Linked DNA regions of Homo sapiens: region 1 is linked to region 2. Evidence: fine-mapped expression QTL. A gene starts in region 2. The other region holds a variant in brackets. All regions are shown on one strand. Distances are from middle to middle. Region 1 overlaps PSMF1 (proteasome inhibitor subunit 1). Region 2 holds the start of TMEM74B (transmembrane protein 74B).

Evidence for each region. PIP is the estimated chance that this variant, and not a neighbour inherited with it, causes the effect.
Region 1: its variant is fine-mapped to the expression of TMEM74B in blood mononuclear cells (TOPMed, PIP above 0.99).

What each region holds. Positions count from the first base shown.
Region 1 is chr20:1,146,756-1,155,091 of GRCh38, forward strand. All of the region lies in intron 4 of PSMF1 (proteasome inhibitor subunit 1), which reads left to right. Among named protein-coding and RNA genes, the nearest start is that of PSMF1, 32 kb to the left of the region's middle. The variant A/G (reference allele first, on the strand shown) is at 3,631.
Region 2 is chr20:1,181,170-1,189,505 of GRCh38, forward strand. TMEM74B (transmembrane protein 74B) reads right to left here and starts at 3,812. Exons shown (of 3, transcript NM_001304748.2): 1 at 3,133-3,812; 2 at 2,602-2,779; 3 at 1-418. The coding sequence starts at 2,632.

The DNA.
Region 1 (8,336 bases), 34 kb before region 2:
TAGCCTCTTGAAGCCTCAGTTTTCTGATCTGCACCTTGGGAATAATTATAGCTGTGTCAAAGGTTTTGTAGGATTGAATGTGATCGTGGATATCACATGTTGACATTCAGTAAATATTCAGTGGTCTAGTAACTGGTCACTGGAAAAAAATATTCAGTGGATGCCCATTCAGGTAGCTGGCAAAGATGAGAACAAATGTGAAGGTGTAATGAGTAGAGGGTCTCTCAAGAGAGAACCTTGTTTTATTTTTTTTAAATACCTACCATCTTCCCCCCAAAACAGATTTGATGGAGGATTAGGTGTGAGAGTGTCAGCCCAGAGCGGGTGTTGGGCAAGTATTTAGGCCCAGGCCCAGGTCCATTATGGACATTGTTTCCGTTATCATCATCATCATCATCATCATCATCATCATCATCATCATCACCACCCTGTGTTGAGGACAGAAGTAATTTCCCTTTCTTGGCTGTTCACCATGCGTTGGCCTGTGAACCGAGTGTGTTAATTTATGGTTGCTTATCTTCTGGACAGCCCTACAAGAAGATCAGTGGCATCCCCACTTTACAGGGGAAGAGACAGTGGCTGAGGGAGGTAACGTAGCTTCTCAGCGTTATCTCGCTGGGAGGGTGAGCACTGGGATTTACCCCGAAGTGGGTCTAACTCAGCAGCTTATGCTTTTCCCACTGCACCTGTCAGCGTTAGTTCATGTAATAAGCAATGTGGTGTACAAATTCAATGTAGTGTAGACTGATTATGGAGAAGCCCATCCCCTTTCTCCTCCTCAATTAAGTCTTTCTGAGGCAGATCTATTTCACAAGAGTAAGGCACTGAACTGGAGAGATGGTTGGAAGAGGAGGCAGAATGTTTAGGAGGCTTTTTCTTAGCCTCTAGCAAATTGACAGCCTATCAGATCTCCCCTCTGTAATCACCTCACCTGCCTCTGCCCCCACTCCCTGCTTATTCCTTGGCCAGCCCCATTTGTCCATGAGCTCAGATAGCTGTGTTGACCCTGATTTCTTTACTATAGCTCCCATCACCACCACTTTGCTCAGCAACCAGGCACTCACACTTCCACCTTTTCCTTTCTCCCTGAAATGCCCAGTTTTGGGGGGAGGCCACAGCAGGAAGGAGGCAAAAAGCAGCACAGAAGCTGGCCTCTCTGGCTGCTGCAGAGTATTAATTATCCCATCACTGAACACCCTTGGCTGGCGCTCGGAGCAGAAATATCAGCCTCTGCTCCTTCCCATAGGACACAGTCCAGTGTCTCACCCCTCACCTTAAACACTCTTGTTTTGCCTCTCTCACACCTGGAAATTTCCAAATACAAACTAAAGTTGGAATTGTCTGCCCTAGAGCGTAAAGAGACTTGTTTCCCTGTGTGTGTAGTGATGTATGGCTGCAGCTTGTCAAAAGATTCTGGGTCTGCTGTGATACTGGGTGCGTCTAGGCTAGGAGTATAGCTAGAGAGGACATTCCATTGTAGTGGAAGATTGGAGGTGGGCAGGTCTTTTCTACTCCTGAGAAGTCTAGGAAAGAATTACTGAAAACAACCATCTGTAAGGAAAATATTTTTTTATCCAGCCTAACTTTTCATTATCATTATAAGTCTAACCTATTTCCTTTTGCTTCATCTGTCCTCTGATAGTCAGGAGACTGTATGCCCCAAATCCTGCTCCATGTTTTGTAAAAAACAGTTTTTTCTATGCTTAACCAGCTTCTCTAAAAATAAATCTTTAGATATAAAGCTCTTATTTATGTCATTCTGAATTCATTTTTAATCCCAACCAATCTGTATCTTTACATATTTTTAAATGTTCCAAATAGTTTGCATTTTGCATTTTCTTTTTAAATTTCATAATCCATTTACTAAAGTGCCAAACATAACTCTTTTAGTATCTGATATTTCATTTTGCTAGTATGCTATGGTTTATATAACTTCTATGGGGTATGTCAAGCATTTCTAATTTGTGATTAATACAGCTATGAACATCCCTGTGTATTAGGTTTTTTTTTCTTTTACTTCCTTGAGTTATATTACTTACACTGGAGGACCTCAAACTTTATGTTCTCAGGAACCCTCTAGCACTCTCAAAAATTATTGAGGACCCCAGAGAGCTCTTATATGGGTTATATGTAGCAATATTTACTGCATTAGCAGTTACAAATGATATTTTCAAAATACACATTTATTCATTCATTTAAAAATAAGCCCATTATGTGTTAATATAAATAACAAATTCCTGTGAAAATATCTCTTCAAAACAAAAAATTTAGTGAGAAGAGTAACATTCTTTTACATTTTGCAAATCTCTTTAATGTCTGGCTTAATGGAAGACAACTAGATTCTCATTTCTGCTTCTGCATTCAGTCTGTAGGGGATATGTTGTTTTCATTGAAGCCTTTCACATATCAGTTGTTGGAAAAAAAGAGGACTAGTTTAATAACCTTTTCAAATAATTCTAGATATTCTTTACTGTTAAACCAACTTGACGAGTAGTAGTTTTTGTAAGGGTTAGTTGTAATGTGGAATCAATCCATACCAGTGAACTTGTTATATATCTGTTACATCAAAATCTGCTGGTCTATCATGCCATTTGAATGGACCTTTTACCCGTGTATAATACTATTGTAGAAGATCGTGTATTTTGGTCATTTGGAAAATACTGATTCACTGAGATATGCAGATCTGCTCAAAGTTGACACATCTTATTATACAATATCATTGCTAATTTTTGCTTGAAAACTTGAATTTTCTCATTGGCAGTAAATAGCATTCATTATTTTCCTTGAAGTAATGGGCTCACATCCTTTTCGAGAAAATGTCCGCTATGTAGCCAAGTTGAATAAGCATGGTTTGTCATTCTTTCAAGTAAAAACAAAAAACAAAAAACTGTTTTCTTTGAAAAAATGACTGCTTCAGCCAGCAGCTTGAACAACTGCACAAGTACTTTTCATCATGACAACATTGTGCCTCTGTGTGCAGTAGAAGTGCTTTATGCAAGGCCAGGTGTGGTGGCCCACACCTGTAATCCCAGCACTTCAGGAGACTGAGACAAGTGAATTGCTTGAGCCTAGAAGTTTGAGACCAGCCTGGGCAACATGGTGAAACTCTGTCTCTATAAATTAGCTGGATGTGGTGGCGTGACCCTGGAGTCCCAACTACTTGAGAGGCTGAGGTGGGAGGATTGCTTGAGCCCAGGAGGTGGAGGTTGTGGTGAGCCATGATCACACCACTGTACTCCAGCCTGGGCAACATGGTGAAACTCTGTCTCTATAAATTAGCTGGATGTGGTGGTGTGACCCTGGAGTCCCAACTACTTGAGAGGCTGAGGTGGGAGGATTGCTTGAGCCCAGGAGGTGGAGGTTGTGGTGAGCCATGATCACACTACTGTACTCCAGCCTGGGCAACAGAGCAAGACCCTGTCTCAAAAAAAAAAAAAAAAGTGCTTTATGCCCGTTTCCCACTTCACGCAGAATATTAAAAAGACATATTCAAAGATTGAAATTTTACAAAACTTGACAATCTATACCTCTTCATCAAGTACATTCTAAAGTGAAGCTGGATGTGGGTGAGTGAGTGGTAAGGGAGGGTGCAATAACGGCCAGGTTAGTGCTGCTGCTTTGAGTCATACT[A/G]TGGCATCAGCAGTTCCACCCACTGTTGCTTTTGCACCGTCAGTGCAAATGTCAACACAGCAAAAAAAAAGCAAATAGCTTCTGAGATAGAATAGTTTTGACCTCATGGGACAGGAGTCCATGAGCCACATTAAAATTTTTTTTTTCTCGAAGTTTACTAGCCATTTGGATTTCATCTTTTGTGAAGAGGTAATCAAATCTCTTGTTCATTTTTCTATTGGCTTGTCTTTTTATGACTTGTTGGCATTGTTTATATAATATATTCTGAATTTAAGTCCTTCATTAAATATATGTATTACAAATGTCTTCCTCCCCTCTGTAGCTTGCCCTTTTACCCTATTAATGGTTTTTTTTAATTATTGTTAAAGCATTCCTAATTTTTATGTAATCTAGCTTATCAGTGCTTTTCCCTTTATGTTTGGTGCTCTTTTGATTTTTGTTTAAGAAGTCTTTGCCTTATGCCAAGGTCATGGAGAAATCCTCATATATTTTCTCCTAGAAGCTTTAATGGTTTACCTTTTATGTTTAGATCTATAATCCATCTAAAATATTTTTTATGTGTGGTGTGAGATTTATATTTTTCCACATTGATATCCAGTTGGTCTAGCACCATATTTTGAAAAGATTATCCTCTACCTATGTTACTTTAATAATTTAATTTTCATTTTTCATTACTTGTGCAACTATTCTCTATTCTTAAAATTTGTTTTCATTCCTTTCGCCTTGGAGTCACATAATATCCCTTTGGTTTTTTCCTGTGGATAGCAAAGTTCAATAACATTTATACAGCTACTGTTTATTCAGTGCCATTGATTCTAGACAAATGCTGGGCATTTAATCCATGTGCTCTTATTTAATCCCCTCAACAATTCCATGAGATTGGTAAGGGCTATCCCCATTTTGCAGGTAAGGAAGCTGAAGTTCATGTACAGTAAGTAACTTCACAACAGTAAGAAGCAAAAGTTGTGTTATAATAGTAAATTATTGAATTCTACTTATGGGACTCAGGCACTACACTTTTGTAAGCATTCTCATTTAATATGTATAACAACCCTGTGAAATAGATACTATTGTCTGTATTTTACACAAGAGAAAGCTAGAGCTTGGAGATTTTCTAACTTGCCCTGGGTCACACATCTGTGAAATGGTGAGGCCAGAATTTGGACTTGAGTCTTATGCCCAAATCAATCTAAGTGTCCATCATGTGCCACTTACTGGGAATATGTCATGAGGTGTGGACCCAGCCTTCAAGGAGCTCACAGTTGATAGGGGCTAATTGCCCTTTTCATTCCAGATCATAAATCTTTTTAAAACAATGGTAGAAGTATGTCTGAGATCTGCTGAAGCACATTAAAGAGTGATTAATCTGAAGGATAGAAGGAAAGTTTTCAGAGAGATGATGCCTGATGAGCTAAATTTTAAAGGACCAATAAAAGTTCTGTGGTATTGAGGGTAATTGACTTTTATGGCAGAGGGAACGATGGGTACCAGTGGGGCTATGAAATCATCTTGTAGAAGTGGGGGAGTTTTTGTTTCACTCATGTCAGCATGTGAAGGGAGAAAAGATGAACATGAGGGCCAAATCACAAGGCCAGTATGTGCTAAGAAGCTGGATTTGATCCATGGGGTGATGGGAGCCATCAATGTTTTGAAAAGTTACGTGGTTGGGACTCGGTTAACCACGGATTTTTTTTTTTCCTCTTGAAGAATCCCAGTCATATTCTGACAGTGGACGTGTTAACATGGTTAATATTTATTGAGCTTTTACTGTGGGCTGAGCAGTTACATTAAATGTAAAGTATATGTAAAACAATATCTTTTAAGCCTCATAAGAGAATGAGGTAGATGCTCTTGGTATCTCTGTTTTATGCAAAAGAAAACTGAGGCAGCAAGAGCTTGACTTGCCCAAAGCAACACATCTTATGAGCATTGGAGCAGGATTCAGCCCTTAGTATTTCCAACTTTTGACACATGTATTGGCAGTTGTTTCAGAAGAAATGAGTTTGGCTTGGATTGCTCCAAGAACAAAGAAATGAACTTGGCTTGGATTGCTCCAAATACTGGTTTGAACACAGTACAGCAGTGGAGCAGAAACAGAGGAGATGACACCATGGGGTAAGCACAGTCCGATGCATATAACCCATGGGGCCAAGATCAGGAGAATGGGAAGCCACTGGACAGGTTTTACAAGGGAGGGACTTCATATTGTTTACATTAAAAAACAAAATAACCCTCTGGCTCCTTTGTAGAGATGGATTATAGAGGGACAAGAGTAAAAACAGACCCAGAGAAGAAGCTGACACAGGCAGCCAGGCAAGAAATAATGGTGGTAGGTGGTAGACTATGGTGGTATATAAGGCAGGTGGCTCTGGGGTATATTTGGAAGTATACCTGACAGGACTTGCTGATGGGTTGGCTTAATGAAGGGAAGAAAACTCAAGGACAATGCAAGTTCTTTTTTTAGCCTGTCATTTCTGATTTGGGACTGCCATAACTAATGCTTCAGTAGACATACTTTTATGCAACTTGGAGCACGTCTCTGAATGTTTCCTTAGAATAGATTCCTATAGAATTACTACATTAAGGACCAAGCCTGTTTATAGAGATTTTGATACAGATTGCTCAGTTGCCCTTTTTCTAAACAGTTGTGTTAATTGACATTCTCACTATGTTTCAATGTCATTTCCCTATCCTTACCAATGCTGGAGTCAGTCTCATTATTCTTCTAAATTACTTAGAAAAACATTGTCTTCATAACATCTGTAAGCTAACTGAACTCAAAGTGTAAGGCCAGTAAAGTGAGGAAAGTGTTTGCAGCATATGTGTGCATCATAAATTGCCACAAATGAGTAGCTTAAAACTGCACCCACTTATTATCTCATAATTCTCTAGGTCAAGAGTATGGATTTGCTTGGCTCATTCAGGTCACTGGCAGAATTCAGTTCCTTGCGGTTATAAGACTAAGGTCCGTATCCCTCTCCCTCAGCTCCATAAGACCTTCTGCATTTCTTCTCATGTGTCTGCCACCTCTTCAAAGCCAGCAGTGCTGTGTTGAGTCTCTTCTTGGGCATTCTTCTTCCTCCACAATCCATGTTCTGTGCTTTTAAGGGTTCCCATGTATTAGATTAGCCCACCGAGATAATGTCCCCTTTTGAGGTCAACTGTGCCATACAACGAAACAATAATAGGATTGCTTTCTCATCACATTCATAGGTACTGGGGATTAGGAGTTGTGGAGTCTTGAGAGGGGATCGAATTCCATCTACCACAATCTGTTCTCTGACCTCTCAAATGTGAAATATATCTTTCTTCCCCTGAGGTTTCCAAGAGTCTTAACCCGTTACTACATCAACTCAGTCTAAAATCTTATCTAAGTCTCATTAGCTTGAAGGACCAAGATCTAATCATCTCAGTCAGGTGCAGTTGAGGCTCCTGAGCACAACTCCTTTCAATCAGTTGACCAAAGAAACAAGTTCTTTGTTCCCATCATATAGTAGTGGAGTGACAGAGGATAAGAAATCTGTGTTTTCTAACATAGAAAAAAAACATGTGCATGAAAGTTATTAAGTACAGTATTATTTGTAGTTACGCATGCATACCCCAGAAACATCAGTGCTTGCAATAGAAAATTAAGTAAATTTTTAAAATTTGCTTCACTTGAGTATGTATTACTTGGCCATTAAAAATGTTAATAGTAAAGACAACTTAGGAAATACAGCACCTATGTGGAGGAAAGCAATGAGATCCAAAATGATATAGTATTGTTACAGTCACATTAAAACATGCTTATGAAAGAAGACATGAAAATAATGCAAAAGTAATCATTGTGTTAGAGTCAGATTATGGGTGACATTTTTCTGTTCTGAATGCTTTACAATTTTTAGCATAATTTATGTATATTTTTTCTTTCTGTTTTTCTTTCTTCTAAAAATCTTTGATCACTTAGCTTAAATGTAGCATTTCCCAACCCTTCTCAGTCCCTGGTTCAGCTTTGATCTCACAGGATATCCTTCAGGGTAAGGAAATGGAAAGGTTTATTGCTCTGTTTGCTCAGGGCCCTGTGACCAGTGCTTCTCTTGCATATGTACACATATACTTCTTTGCAGTTATCAGCATCTTCATTTCCCCAATTCTAAGTTTCCACTCTTAGCTGGACAAAGTTAATAAACTCAGACACCAAAACTTCATGGCTGAATTTGTACTCTGACTGGGAAACAGTCTACCCCCAAATCAGCAGTGTCAGCTTACCTGGGAGCTTGTGAAAAATGCAGAATCTGAGGTCCCACTCCTAGTCTTCTGAATGAGAACCTGCATTTTAGCAGGATCCCCCACTGACTCATGTGCACCTGACAGTTTGAGCAGCACTTGCCTAGGTGGTTCAAATAATGCTGTGGAATTAGGGATTAGGGTCTGAAAATATTTAGGTTGTTGATACTAGTTGTGCCACGAAACCACAGCTGGCACTCCAGAAGCCTGGTGTGCAGACAGTGTTCACACCCAGTGATCAGCCACAGGTACAGATTAGCAGCTGGGAAGGCAGCCATGTTGGCATTCTGTACTGATAAAGAAGGTTCTGGTTCTAGAGTAAGCACATGCCATCCTGAGTTTCCTATTCAGTGCAGCCTTACAGAATGCATAGAGTAAAGCTATTTGAGAATATGAAAACTCCTCATTGAGAAAGCAGATTGGAGAATAGCAGAGTTTTA
Region 2 (8,336 bases):
TTGACTCGAGCCTCACGGGGGATGGCGTATGCTGTCACCACCAGAAGAATCCCACTCACCAGGAAAACGAGGGCGGAAACAAAGCCATAATCCACCGGGCGGCTCACGGGCTCCAGGGCTGGCCCCTCCTCTGAATGAAGGGACAGATCATCCCGCTGGGATCGGGGCAGTGAGGAGACACCCCCAGGGGGACTGGGTGAGCTGCCCAGTCTCGTGTTCCCAGGGTTCTGGAAATGGGTCTCATGCTCCTCTGAGGAGAAGCAGGCATTCTCCACACCCTCCCTGGTTGGGGCCACTGGGCCCAGGGGAGCTGATCTCCTTGGGGCTTGGGGACCATTGCTCAGTGTCTTCAGTTCCAGACCAGGGGGAGATGCCATTGGGAAGGAGGGCCCCAGCTCATCCCTTGGCCCCTTGGCAGCTGGAAGAGAAAAAAGAAAGTCAGTTGAATGTAGCAACCTCTCCCTGTTGTGGAGGACATCATACCAGTCCCTAAGCACATGAAGGTGAGTCAGGCACAATTCCCACTTGGGGGTGTCTGCCAGACAGAGGGGAAGACAGGGAATAAGACGATGACAGAACAGTGTGATCCAAGCCCAGATCCCACTCTACCACCGGGTGGGGTATGGCTGTGGGCAATTCACTAATCCTGTCTGGCTTCAGTTTCCCCACCTATAAAATAATACTACTACTACCCTCTAGTTCGCAAAGCTGGAGTAGGATTGAGATAACCTATACGAAGTACTCAGAACACTAAGTGCTCAAAGTTAGCGATGAGTTCCTATTATACTGGAGGGAATGTAGGTAGTGTGAATATCAGGCTCAAATCCCAGCTTCACCACTTGGGCTTGGGCAAGTGATGTGACCTCTCCAGATTCGGTCTTCATCTTATCTATAAAATGGTAATGAATAAAATGCCTCCCTCATAAGGTTGTTGTGAGGATTTCATAAAATAGTGCATGCAAGACCCTGGCCAGTGCAATCCATGGACCTTGTTGTATGAGGGAAGGATGACGGAGGGGTGGGGGAGGGGGTAGAAATGCAGAAGTTGTTGTGGGAACAAAGAGGAAGGGAAGTTTCTGGGAGTTGGTGGCATTTGAGCCAGATCTCAGAAGATGAATTGGATACTTCCCAGCAATGGAAGGTGATGAGGGCATTCTGGAAAGGGGAACAGACTGCCTCAGAGGCCAGCTGGGGCCGGCTCACAGAGGACTCTGAAAGCCAGGCCAAGGAGCCCGAGAGCCATGCAGAGCTGAGGAGCTGGAGCAGGAAGTGCCTCGGCTTCAGAAGAAAGGAGGACTGATGAGATGGGAGGGGGCAAAGTGGAGGATGGGGGTCCAGCAAGGAAGCCAGCAGGTTGGGGATGGCATGGCTAAAAGGGCCAAGAGGAAGGGGCAGACTGGAGAGCCATGACTAGGTCAAAGCCAAATGCCTTTATGTAAACAGAAGTGTGGGGACCTGGACTAGAACCACAGGAGGGGAACCGGGAGGGAGAGGCGAGAAGAGGGACACTCTCTGTGCTGCAAGAGGAGTTACCCCACCCAAGAACCTGAACACAAACCCACCCAGACACAGACAGCACATGTGCATTCCCGCTGAAGGATACTGACTTACAGCCCGGGGACCATATTTGGCTGATAGAAGTTTTGCTTTGTTTTGTTCCTGGCCTGTTCATTTGTTTTTGGTGAATTAGTTGCAAATGTATAAAAAGCAAAAGATTTTAGATTTTACATTTTAAATGTTGGATTCCTGGCTTCTCCTGCAAAATGAAAGAATCTGGCCACCTTAGGCCCCCGTTCCCTTGTAACACTCGCCTGGAGTTGGCAATCGGGGCTCTTAGGCAGATCTAGCCTCTCCCCGACAGGTCCCACCTCAGCCCCCTTCCCTGCCTGGCATGTGTCATTCCTAATCCACAGCAGAACTGCATCATTCCTTGTATACACTGATGGCCTGAGGGCACATACACTCAGAGCCCTAGGCGCACAAGCCATGGGCTACAGAGACCACCAGGTGCAGAGTGGCTCACATGCTCCGGTGTGTCTACGCACACATACATGCACACACACACGATTCTCTGCATTCTCATGCCGGAGTTTATTCTCCAGTGCACTGTGGTTCGTTCTCTGTGTGTGTGTGTGTGTGTGTGTGTTTGTGTGTGTGTGTGTGTGTAAATATGAGCAAATGAAGTGAGGATGAATGGAATGAATGAATGAATGAAACTCAAAGAGCCTCAGTGCAGGAAGACATGTTTTTCAATCTTTCTGACCTTCTTGTCAATATGGACTAGCATCAGACACCTCCTCTTAGCACATATAGGGCCTTTCATGTGAGTACAAAGCTCTTTTCCCTTTACAGCCCATTTCTATCACTACGTCTCTCTTTCCAGAGTCTCAATTTAGTAAATGTTTACCAAGCACCTACTAGCTGTTGAGCCATGTACCCGACACTTCATGCAGGAGTATCTCATATCACCCTCACCAGCCCCACGATCCGGAATTACTGTCTCTATTTCATAAAACATGGCCAAGATCCCATGGCATGTATGGGAGGGTGGAGGACAGGAGTTGAATGCAGATTCCCTAAGAATTATTATCATGTACAAACCTGCAAACTCATACCCCTGTGCTGGTGGCATCACTCCACCAGCCTTCCCTGGCTCTGCATCCCTCACTCATAGACTCTTCATTTTATCCAGCTGTTTATCAGCAACCGTGAGCACCTTGAGAGCAGGCATAAGTTTGAATTCCATCTGGGTCCCCAGCCTGCGCCCAGACTGCTTTTACTTTCCAGTGAATAGACAGAAAAAAGAGATGTGTTTGTTGGTTGGCTTTTTACTCTTAGCACCAAAAACATTTTCCTGAGTGCCCAGCCACAAACAGGGACCAGCAGTGGGTGCCACATGGGTGCTCAGAAGTGGCCCCCACCCACACCCTCAGCACCTTCCACCCAACTCAGCTCCTGGAGTGGCCCAGGAACCCCTTTCCCAGACTGATATATTGATGCCTCCACACCCTGGAAGAAATCTGGAGCTCCCAAATTCTGGGAGCAGAGCTCTCCTTCATGCTGCAGGAACCCAAAACTTTTTTCTTAGGATGCCACAGTGAGAGGGCAGAGAAAAATGAGGATTCCTCTCACCCAGAGTTAGGACATCTCTCTGTTTCATGCCCAGGTTCAGAGATATTCACCAGTTACACAAAGGCCGTGCCCAATTACCCTAACATAAGCAGAAACACACCAACTGACATAGCTGCTCCCGCCCACCATTCACACCCCACGACCCCACCAGTTACTAATTTCATCTGCAGTCAGACAGGTCCTGAAAGGAACACTCCAGTTCCACACACACTCCCCCAGCAGCTGTTCCCACAGCAGTACCCACAGACACCCAGAAGTCACGTAGTGTGACCCTCGGATCTTCGGGCCACGCGAGTACCCCGTCACACGCACACGCGCGTACACACACACACACACACACACACACACACACACAAAGTGCCCCTGGGAGTGAGACCCAAGCCAGATCCACCAAGACCCGCAGGGGCCCAATACCCCACCCGCCGCGCGCACTGACACCCGGAGAGAGGGACGCACAGCGGCTGTGGGTGAAGCTTCACAAAACCCAGTCGATAGACACACGCACGAGTTGTACACAAAGCCTTGGGGCGCGCAGATACGCACACGCAGGTCCACGCTGTTGTACCCAAAGTTGCGCGCAGAAAGCCCCAGCACGCCGGCTGCCCACCGCGCCCGCTCCCGCCGGCCCAGTCCACACCCCCTGCTCCTGCCCTTGCCCACAGACGCGGGACCCGGAAGGCCGAACCGGACCAGGCGGAGGCCCGGGGAGGCCGGGTCCCCTGGTCGCATGTCCTTCGGCGGGCCGCGAGGTCAGGCTCGCCGTCCTTCGCCGCCACTCCCCGCCCCCGGCCCTCGGCCTCCTGCCGCCCCCAGCGGTCCCCTCTCCGCGTGCGTACCTGTGCCGGGCCTCCCTCCCCGCCTCACCACGCTGGGGCGAAGGGCGCCCGGCCGCCGGCGGGCGAGGGTGCGTCCTCTCCGGTGCCCGTCCGCCTTCCTGCAGCCGGCGTACGCCTGCGGGGGTCTCGCCTGCGGGGGTCTCTCTCCTGCGGCGCAGCCCGGAGGGCGCGGGCCCGGCCGCCACCGCCTCGCCCTCCCGGTCTCCCGCCCCCTTCCCGGCCCGGCCCGGAGCCACTGCCGAGGCGCACGTACCTACTCGCGCCGCGCGGAGCTGTACGGCGGCGGTGGCGGCCGCTGGGGAGGCGGGGGGGGGATCCGGGGACGGAGGGACGGGAGAAGGGGCGGGGGCCGGGGCTCGCCGAGCGCCGCGGAGGGAGCTCCGCCCGCGGCCGGCGAGGGCGCCCGGAGAGTTAGCAAGGAGAGGGACAGGAAGGCGGGTGATGGGCTGGGGCGAGGGTGCGGGGGCTCCGATCCACCGTCCTCCCCTCCCCTCCAGGCAGATCTGGATCGCCGGCGCCTGGGCTTAGGGAACTGGGGCTTGGAGCCCGCGGTCCACGGGCGCAGGGGCGGGGCGGGCGGGGGCTGCTGAAGAAGATCCCTCCCCACCACCGGAGAGCCCCTATTGCGCCAAGCGCAGGTGCCTCCCCACTCCTCACCCCCACTCTGCCACTTCCCCTTCCCCCCACCCCCACCCCGCACGCAGCCCCCAGGTAGGACCCCGGGTCCTCTCCGAGGTCCTTAGGTCGGGACGGTCTCCTCGGGCGCTTGCGGCTCCGTGGCTCAAGGGCGCCACCTGAAGGCTGCAAGAAAGAATCCGACGATCCCCCTCCCCCTTTTCTCTGCAATTTTTTTCTCCGTGGGACAGTGGAGTGCTCCGCCCAAGAGGGGTGTTCTCCTGGGGGCATTGCCAATGGCCAAACACACCCTCACCCTCCAAGGCCCAGCTGTGGGGCCTCTTCTCCTGGAACCCCTCCCTGGGCACACACCCACTTACCCCACGGGCCCCTCCATCTGGGCTCTCCTTTTGCCCGCACTGTTTGCTCTTGTCTCTGACGGTCGTGATTTTGTTTAAGGGTCAGCCTCCTCCATCGGATTGGCAGCTCCTGGAGAGCAGGACCCATGTCTGATCACCTAGAAGACCTAGGTGGGTGTGGGTGAACAGGCTGTGAAAAGGGGTGACTTTCACTTCTTTCCTTTACAGGGCCGGAGTTAAGATGAGTCCAGCGAAGTGCCTAGAGTACCAAATTCATGGAGACGTTTCCTCTTTGGGGAACACACGCCAACCCCAGAGACAGCTTTGGTCTGAATCGTGCAGGTTCCGGGAAGACACGGTGACCAGCTGAATCGTGTGGTCTCGGTTAGTACCTCTGGCCTCTGAGCCTGTATCCACTTCTGTCCATGAGGATTGTGAATGTGCAGGCTTTGAGGGCTCTGGGAAGGCCAGCAGAAGTTGGCCATGTGGAAGGACAGGCGAATGAGTGTGCCATGTCCTGCTCCTCGGCCACCTCATGAGCGGAGCCTGACCTGCCCTCCTCCAAAGTTCTGTGCAGCCCTCCCCAACCAGGAGACTGGAAGTCACCCTGGATGATGGATGCCTGTGCCTTCAAGGCCAGCATAGCCTAGCCCTAGGCAGGTCCACCAGGGCTGGGAAGGCCTCCATTTCCTCCCAGCCTTGCAGAGGCCTGGCCCGTTGTTAGAGACTTCAAAGGGATGCTAGCCCTGGCACCACACTCCTGTTCAAATCCCAGCTCCACCCCCACAGCTGGGTGCCCTGGTGTAAAGGACTGCCCTCCTGGAGCTCGGTTTCCTCCTCTGTGAAACGGATGTAGGAAGTGTTATGGGAATGGGATGAGATACCGCCTTTAAAGCACTCACTGTTCCTTCCCTCAGTCATGCGCTGTCCTACCTCAGCCTTTGCGCTGGCTGTTCCTTCTGCCTGGGACGTTTTTCTTTCTGATATTTCCCGCACTCACCCCCTTCCCTCACTTCCTTCAAGTCTTTGCTCAAATGCCACCTTCTCAGAGACGCCATTCCAGGCCATCCTTTCAAAAATAGCAGTGCCCCAGCACTCTTTACTCCCTCACTCTGAATTTTTCTCTATAGCACTTACCAACTGACATTAGTTTCTGTTTGCTTATTGCCACCTCCCCTAAAAAATAAGTGCCAAAAGAAGAGGGTTTTTGCCTGTTTCCCTCCCTGCAGTATCCCCAGACACTAGAAAAGGGGCTAACACCTAGGAAGCTCTGGATAAGTGCTCACTGAATAAAGAACAGAGAAAATGGGCAAATATTATATACTAGTTAGCTAGGTAGACTCCATCCCTACACTCAGGAAGCTTGTATTCTAGTGGGAGAAAAGGATAAGTAAATGTAACATTGCAGTTATAGTAAATGCTACCAAATAAAAGTATAGAGTGCAAGCCTCAAACAAGGGTGCCAACCTAGTCTTGGGGATAGGAATGGCTTCCTGTAAAAGTGTGGACTGAGCTGAGATTAGAAGGATGAGTAGAAGGCAACCAGATAAAGAGGGGAGGAAAGAGAAGTCCAGCAGAGCGCCTAGCATAGGCGAAGACCTTGGGGTAGAAGGAAGTGTGTGACGAGTTTGAGAGTTGCAGGAGACCAGTATGGTTGTCATGGAGGGCCTGATAAGGAACCTGGTAGGAGACGAGCCTGGGCTTAGCAGGTCAGGTCACTGCAGAGCCTTACAGGCCAAGTAATTTGTTCTTTATCCTCAGAGCAGTGGAGAGCCTCACTGATGAATGTAAGTAAAGGGTTAACAAAACCTTTTCCTCTTTTGCATGAGAATTTGACCTTTGGAAGCTCTGTTTCCTGGAAACAGATAAACATATGTCTGCTATGTTACTAAGCAACATTGCTTCTGATAAAAATGACCCCTGAGGAGGAGGCTAGAATGATCCATGTGGCAACAGATTAGAATTGGAGATACCAGAATGAACTCATGTTTAGCTTAATATAGATGCAGATGATTACATACAGAAAGTTATATATATATATAATACACACACACACACACACACACACACACGGGCTAGTATACACACATTTATTTCCTTACTGTCAGGCGAGAGGGCCTAGAAGCAATGATACTCCATAGCAACAAGCACACGTAGCACTGAAATCTTGGTTTCTAATACCATTCTCCAATAAAAGGATCCAAGGCTCCTTGAAGAAATTGCTGTTTATAGGACTTGGGCAGGAAACACTACAAGATGAGCCCAGAGCATCTGATAGTGCCAGAAAGTAAAGAAATGCTACACACACACACACACCACACACCACACACACATGCCACACACACTCTACACACACTACACATACACTACACACACCACACACACTACACACACATGCCACACACACACTCTACACACACACTACACACACCACACACATACCACATGCACCACACACACCACACGCACTACACACACACCATACACACAATACACATACTACACACACACCACACACATACACTACCTACACACACCACACACACTACACACACACCACACACACACACAAATGGTGGGGGTAGGAGCTAACTGAAAGAGTTCCCAATGGCCAAAGCTGGAAAAATTTGAGTGACAAAATAAATAAGGTAATATTGGACTGTAACAAAAAGTATGAAATAAATATCTATGAGTCCATACTGATAAAAATAACTGAACAAACAGGTAGAAAAGAGAAATCTCCCATGCAGAATTCCAAATTCTGTATCTAGATAACTCAGTCCTTGAGGAGGGGAACTGTAACTCCCCATTTTGAAAGTGCGAGGTGCACATAATGACTCCCTTTCCAAGAGTGTTTTATGGAAAGCGCTGGGGTGGCGGGGCGGGGGCGGGGGCAGGTGGGAAGTAACTTTACAGTGGAGAAACTGACAAACGTGATGACCTCAGCCAGGTGATGAAAGTCAACTCCAACAGTCAAATCACGTCGCTAGTAGGTACCTTGGATATGATGCGGCACAAATGGCACTTTACCTCTGTTGTCTTCCTCCCCAAAACCCATAGCTGCAGTCTAGTCATCAGATAAACATCAGACAAATCCCAATGAAGAAAATTCTACAAAACATCTGACTAGTTCTCCTCAAAGGTCATCAAAACAAGGAAAGTCTGAGAAATTGTCACAAACGATAGGAACCTAAAAAGACATAACGACTCAATGTAGTGTGGTACCCTTGATAGAATACTGGAACAGGAAAAGGAAATTTTGCAAAAACTATGGAAATATAAATAAAGTATGGACTTTAGCTAATAACAGTGTATCAGTGTTGGTTAATTGTAACAAATATACTCATGTAAGATGTTAACAGTAGGGGAAAGTGGGTTTGGGGTTGATGTCCTT